Linked DNA regions of Homo sapiens. Each later gene encodes a partner of the first gene's protein in a complex. Each region holds a gene or a part of one and is shown on either strand. Other genes may lie near its edges.

Evidence for each region.
Region 2: PRPF19 (region 1) and ISY1-RAB43 share a complex: the UniProt entries of both Homo sapiens proteins name them as parts of the XAB2 complex.

The regions. Positions count from the first base shown.
Region 1 is NC_000011.10:60,893,192-60,896,780, forward strand, and holds part of PRPF19 (pre-mRNA-processing factor 19), read right to left. Parts: intron 1-3,589. UniProt on the Homo sapiens protein: Ubiquitin-protein ligase which is a core component of several complexes mainly involved pre-mRNA splicing and DNA repair. Required for pre-mRNA splicing as component of the spliceosome.
Region 2 is NC_000003.12:129,133,363-129,137,182, forward strand, and holds part of ISY1-RAB43 (ISY1-RAB43 protein), read right to left. Parts: coding exon of another isoform or gene 3,769-3,820; intron 1,593-3,768; coding exon 1,470-1,592; intron 834-1,469; coding exon 712-833; intron 1-711. Other genes in the region: pre-mRNA-splicing factor ISY1 homolog, read right to left, coding at 712-833, 1,470-1,592, 3,769-3,820. UniProt on the Homo sapiens protein: Component of the spliceosome C complex required for the selective processing of microRNAs during embryonic stem cell differentiation. Required for the biogenesis of all miRNAs from the pri-miR-17-92 primary transcript except miR-92a.

The DNA.
Region 1 (3,589 bases):
TGTATAAAAGTATAATATAGCTAGGCGCGGTGGCTCACGCCTGTAATCCCAGCACTTTGGGAGGCCGAGGTGGGCAGATCACGAGGTCAGGAGTTTGAGATCAGCCTGGCCAACATAGTGAAACCTCATCTCTACTACAAATACAAGTACAAAAAAAAAAAAATTAGCCAGATGTGGTGGCACACGCCTGAAGTCCCAGCTACTCGGGAGGCTGAGGCAGGAGAATCACTTGAACCCAGGAGGCGGAGGTTGCAGTGAGCCAAGACCATGCCATTGCACTCCAGCCTGGGTGACAGAGCAAGACTCAATCTCAAAAAAAAAAAAAGTATAACATAATTAGGTACAGTACGTTACTGGTTTATGTACAGACATATCTCAGGGACATCGCTGGTTCAGCTCCAGGCTACCAATAAAGCAAATATTGCAATAAGGCAAGGCACACAAATTTTTTTGGTTTCTCACTACATATAAAAGTTATGTTGGCCAGGCATGGTGGTTCATGCCTGTAATCCCAGCACTTTGGGAGGCCGAGGCAGGTGGATCGCTTGAGTTCAGGAATTCAAGACCAGCCTGGCCAACATGGGGAAACCCCGTCTCTACTAAAAATACAAAAATTAGCCGGGTGTGATGGTGCCCACCTGTGCTAGAACCTGGGAGGTGGAGGTTGCATTGAGCCAAGATCGTGCCACTGCACTCCAGCCTAGGCGACAGAGCAAGACTCCATCTCAAAAAAAAATGTTATGTTTACACTATACTGTAGTCTATTAAGTGTGTAATAACATTATGTCTAGTAAACAATGTACATACCTTAATCAAAAATACTTTATTGCTAAAACATGCTAACAACCATCAGACACTTCAGTGAGTTGTCATCTTTTTCCAAGACCCACCAGCAGGGTCTTGCCTTGATGTCGATGGCTGCTAACTGACAAGGGTGGTGTTTGCTGAAGGCTGAAGTGGCTGTGACAATTTCTTAAAATAAGACAACAAAGAAGTTTGCCACATCATTTGATTCTTCCTTTGACAAAAGATTTCTCTGTGATGGATGCTGTTTGATAGCATTTTACCCACAGTAGAACTTTCAGAACTGGAATCAATCCTCTCAAATTCTGCACCTGCTTTATCAATTAAGTTTATGTAATATTCTAAATCCTTCATTATCATTTCAACAATGTTCACGGCATCTTCACCAGTAGAAGATTCCATCAAGAAACCACTTTCTTTGGTCATCCCTAAGAGCTCCTCATCCATTAAAGTTTTAACATGAGATTGCAGCAATTCAGTCCCATCTTTAGACTCCCCTTTGGATTCTAATTCTCTTACCATTTCCTCCACATCTGCAGTTACTCCCTCCATGGAAGTCCTCAATCCCTCAAAGTCATCCATGAGGGCTGAAGGGTTGGAATCAATTTCTTCCAAACTCCTCTTTATGTTCATAGTTTAACCTCCTCCCATGAATCACAAATGTTCTTAAGGGCGTGTAGAATGGTGAATCCTTTCCAGGTTTTCAATTTACTTTGTCCAGATCCATCAAAGGAACCACTATCCAGGGCAGCTATAGCTTTATAAAATGTATTTCTTAAGTAATAAGACTTGAAAGTCAAAATTACTCCTTGATCCATAAGCCGAAGATTGGATGTTGCAGGCATGAAACATCTCCATCTGAGCTTTAGGGTAATGAGGTGCACTGTAATATTTTGAAAGGAATCTATTTTTCTGAACAGTACCTCTTAATGGGGGGCTTAAAAAATATTCAGTAAACCATGCTGTAAACAGATGTGTTGTCATCCAGACTTTGTTGTTCTATTTACAGAGCACAGGCAGAGTAGATTTAGCCCCACCTTCTTAAGGGCCCTACAATTTTCAGAATGCTAAATGAGCTTTGGCTTCAATGTAAAATCACCAGCTGCATTAGTCCCTAACAAGGGAATCACTCTGATCTTTGCATCTTGGAAACCAGGCATTGACTTCTCTCTAGCTGTGCAAGTTCCAGATGTCACTTTCTTCCAATAGAAGGCTATTCCGTCTACATTGAAAATCTGTTGTTGAGTGTACCCACCGTCAATGATCTTAGCTAGGTCTTCCGGATAACTTGCTGCAGCTTCTACAACAGCATCTGCTGCTTCACCTTGTACTTTTCTGTTATGGAGATGGCTTCTTTCCTTAAACCTCATGAACCAACCTCTGCTAGCTTCAAACTTTTCTTTTGTAGCTTCCTCACCTGTCTCAGCCTTCACAGAATTCAAGAGTTAGGATCTTGGTCTGGATTATGGTTTGGCTTAAAAGAATGTTGTGGCTGGTTTGATATTCTATCCAGACCACTGAAACTTTCTCCATATCAGCAATAAGGATGTTCTGCTTTCTTATCATTTGTGCGTTCACTGGAGTAGCACTTTTAATTTCCTTCAAGAATTTTCCTTTGCTTTCATAACTTGACTAATATTTGGTGTTGAGGCCTAGCTTTTGGCCTATTTGGCTTTTCACATGCCTTCTTCACTAAGCTCAATCATTTCTAGCTTTGGATTTTAAGTAACAGACATGGGACACTTTCTTTCACTTGGACACCGAGAGGCCATAATACGGTTATTAACTGGCCTAGTTTCAATATTGTTGTGTCTAAGGAAATAGGGAAGTCTGAGAGGGAGAGAGATGGGGAACGGCTGGTGGGTGGAGTGGTCAGAACACACACAGCATTTCATTTATCAAATAAATTCAGTAACTTTTATGGGCACATTTCATGGTGCCCCCCCGCCCAACAATTACAATAGCAACATCAAAGATCACTAACGGACACAATAAATCATGAAGAAGTTTGAAATACTGTAAGAATTACCAAAATTTGACACACAGACACAAAGTGAACACATGTTGTTGGAAAAATGGTACTGACAGACTTGCTTGGGGCAAGGTTGCCAAAAACCTTCAATTTATAAAAAGCAAAGTATCCATAAAATACAATAAAGCTAAGTGCAATAAGACAAGGTATGCCTATACTATACTTTTTTTGGTATTAAATATACTCTTCCCACTTATAAAAAAAAGTTAACTGTAAAACAGCACCAAGCAGGCCCTTTCAGGAGGTATCCGAGAAGAAGGCATTATCATCATAGGAGATGACAGGTTTATGCATGTTGGTGCCCCCGAAGACCTTCCGGTGGGAAAAGATGTGGAGGTAGAAGACAGTGATGTTGGTGCTATGGTTAGGCTTTGTGCCGCCACCCAAATCTCATCTTGAATTGTAGTGCCCATAATCCCCACGTGTTGTGGGAGGGAGCCAGTGGGAAGTAACTGAATCATGGGGGTGGTTACCCCCATGCTGTTCTCATGATAGTGAGTTCTCACGAGATCTGATGGTTTTATGAGGGGCTTTAGCCCCTTTGCTCAGCATTTGTCTCTCCTGTTGCCATGTAAAGAAAGACATGTTTGCTTTCCCTGCTGCTATGACTGTAAGTTTCCTGAGGCCTCCCGAGTCACTGTGAGTCAATTAAACCTCTTTCCCTTATCAATTACCCAGGCAGTTCTTCATAGCAGTGTGAGAACGGACTAATACAGTTGGTGATCCTGATCCTGTGTAGGCCTAGGGTAATGT
Region 2 (3,820 bases), on another chromosome or scaffold:
AGTTTCTTCTCTGCTCTGCGTTTCTTTCCATGTGTAAGACAGGGGTGTTAGGGCTGGGAGCAATGGTTCACACCTGTCATCCCAGCACTTTGGGAGGCCAAGGCAGGTGGATCACAAGGTCAGGAGTTCGAGACCAGCCTGGCCAATATGGTGAAACCCCGTCTCTACTAAAAATACAAAAATTAGCCATGCGTGGTGGCACTCGCCTGTAGTCCCAGCTACTTGGGAGGTTGAGGCAGAAGAATTGCTTGAACCCGGAAGGCAGAGGTTGCAGTGAGCCAAGATTGTGCCACTGCACTCCAGCCTGGGCAACAGAGCCAGATTCCGTTTCAAAAAAAATAAAAAAGATGGGGGTGTTAGACTACAGAAGAGCAACTGCCACTGACACGTGAACAGAAGTGATGAGGTCATGGGCTAAAGCTCATGGCTTCCTCTGTGTTTATCAGTCTAATTCTAGTGTATGCAGAAGGGCCTGTCTTTAAGAAGGAAAGAAGGAAGCCCTGGTGTAAAGCACGGCCGGCAGGGCACTCTCATGGCTGCTGCCTCCTGAAACCCTCCTGTAATCTCGCAAGTGTTTTCACAGCCATCCTGCAGGTGAGCAAGCTGGGCTGTGAACCCTGACTCTGTATTTGGGAGCCAAGTTTCCTCCCTGCCACACTTCATGGCTTGGAACAGATGGCAGTGAGTGCCAGAGGGGGCCAACCCCAATACCTCCTCCTCGGTGACTGCATAGATGTTGATCTCTTCCTCCTCTTCCTCCTCCTCTTCCTTTTCTCCTCTTGCCAGCCGAGCCTCTCTCTCTGCTTTCCACTTTTCCACTAACTCGGCTCTGACTGAACACAAGAGAGGGTAGGTGCTATTTATTTGTCTCTAAATGAGCTTTCAACACTATGCAGGGAAAGGCCAACACTATGCAGGGAAAGTCTAGACATCCCCTCTAGAAAGGGACACCCTTCATTCTGCCCCCGTGGGTGGAAATGGATGTGAAGCATGGTAGTCCTACAACAGCTCTGGCCTTCAGTCACTACAAAGCAGCTTTTTAGGGAACATTCCCAAATCCTCCCCACTTCCACAACCTGAGTGGATTCCCAACATGTCCACATGAAAAGAGAGAAGGCAGGGGCAGAGCATGCTAGAAAGCAGCTCCAGCTCCAGACCACTTGCTTCCAAAGTCCTGGCCTGATGTGTCACATGGGCACTGGTATTAGCACGAATCCACATGGTGACCTCCTAGCAGACAGGGACCGGTCAGACGTGGCTCTCATGGCTTCCCCAACCTGTTACCTCTGGCCCACACAGCTTTGACTGCCTCACAGGGGTCAGGGAATTAGCAGACCATCACGCCTGAAGATCATTAGCAACAAAGAAAACTCCCTTCTGGCATAAAGCACTATTGAAAATCCTGTTTTCAAAGGACACAACAGAAAACAGATGCCATCTATTATGAAATAAAATGCCCAGAGACCTACGTTTCTTTTCATATTCCTGTTCCAAAGGCACAATAACACCATCATCTTCATCTAGGTAACCATAGTACTCAAAATCGATTGCCTTCATGAGCTCAGCACGTGTCTTTCTGGGAGGAGGAAGAGCTATAAGAAACAGAAATGGAGCTGAGTTTCCAAGTCATAATCACACTCCAGCGAAGCTGTCTCCTGATGCAACGCTATACACACACGTGGCACGTATGTTCATGAAAATACCAGGTGGGCGCAGTGGCTCATGCTTGTAATCCTAGCGCTTTGGGAGGCCCAGACAGGTGGCTCACAAGGTCAGGAGTTCGAGACCAGCCTGACCAACATGGTGAAACCTCGTCTCTACTAAAAATACAAAAATTAGCCGGGCGTGGTGGTGCGCACCTGTAATCCCAGCTACTCAGGCTGTGGCAGGAGAATCGCTTGAACCTAGGAGGCAGAGTTTGCAGTGAGCCGAGATCACGCCACTGCACTCCAGCCTGGGCGACAAAACAAGACTCCATCACACAGAAAAAGAAAATACCATGGATAGACACTTTTCTATACTATTCATGGAATTATTTAAGTGGTAGAGCCCTTTTTAAAATCAGTACTTGGACCCATTTGTCCGTTTAAAAGCAATCTACCTAAGTAAAAAACAAAACCAGGCCGGGTGCGGTGACTCATGCCTGTAATCCCAGCACTTTGGGAGGCCGAGGCGGGAGAATCACGAGGTCAGCAGTTCAAGACCAGCGTGGCCAATATGGTGAAACCCCATCTCTACTAAAAATACAAAAATTAGCCAGGCATGGTGGTGGGGGCCCCTGTAATCCCAGCTACTCCTGAGGCTGAGGCAGGAGAATCGCTTGAACCCAGGGGACAGAGGTTGCAGTGAGCGAAGACTGCACCACTGCACTGCAGCCTGGGCGACAGAGCGAGACTCCATCTCAAAAAAAAAAAAACAAAAACCAAACACGAGATAGCAAAAAGCTTCATGTACAGAAATATGCATCACAGTATTATTTATATAATAGAGAAAACTTGGGAATAACCTATGATTGTAAATTGCAGAATATGTATGGGATGGGATATCCTGCAGCCCCTGTAATGCTATTTCACAAAGTATTTTAATAACACAGGAACTGTCATAATGTTTAATGAAAAAGCATGACAGGAAACATAAGTAAATAAAAAAGACAAAAGAAGCTAGAAACAAACAAAAAAGATACATGAGAAAGCCCTAAAGAAGATATTTTCAGACTAGGACTACAATCCAGAATATTTAAGTAATTCTTTTTTTTTTTTGAGATGGAATTTCGCTCTTGTCCAGGCTGGAGTGCAATGGCATGATCTTGGCTCACTGCAACCTCTGCATCCCGGGTTCAAGCGATTCTCCTGCCTCAGCCTCCCGAGTAGCTGGGATTACAAGCACCCGCCACCACACCCAGCTAATTTTTGTATTTTTAGTAGAGATGGGGTTTCACCATGTTGGCCAGGCAAGTCTCGAACTCCTGACCTCAGGTGATCCACCCGCTTAGGCTTCCCAAAGTGCTAAGATTATAGGTGTGAGCCACTGCACCCGGCTAAGTAATTATTAAAAATGAAAAACAAAATGACAACCAACCAGATTGGTGAAAGAATAAAAGCTGGCCAGGTGCAGTGACTCATGCCTGTAATCCCAGCATGTTTTTTTCTTTTTTTTGTGGGACGGAGTCTCGCTCTTGTTGCTCAGGCTGGAGTGCAATGGCGCAATCTCAGCTCACCACAACCTCCGCCTCCTGGGTTCAAGCAATTCTCCTGCCTCAGCCTCCTGAGTAGCTGGAATTACAGGCACGCACCACCACGCCCGGCTAATTTTGTATTTTCTTCTTCTTCTTTTTTTTTTTTTTTAAAGACAGAGCCTCGCTCTGTCACCCAGGCTGGAGTGCAATGGCGTGATCTCAGCTCACTGCAAGCTCCGCCTCCTGGGTTCACGCCATTCTCCTGCCTTAGTCTCCCGAGTAGCTGGGATTATAGGCACCTGCCACCATGCCCAGCTAATTTTGTATTTTCTTCTTCTTTTTTTTTTTATTTTTTATTTTTTAATTTTATTTTTTTAGACAGAGCCTCACTCTGTTGCCCAGGCTGGAGTGCAATGGCGCGATCTCAGTTCACTGCAAGCTCCGCCTCCTGGGTTCACGCCATTCTCCTGCCTCAGCCTCCCAAGTAGCTGGGATTACAGGTGCCCGCCACCATGCCCAGCTAATTTTTTGTATTTTTTTTTAGCAGAGACGGGGTTTCACCATGTTAGCCAGGATGGTCTTGATCTCCTGACCTTGTGATCCGCCCGCCTCAGCCTCCCAAAGTGCTGGGATTACAGGCATGAG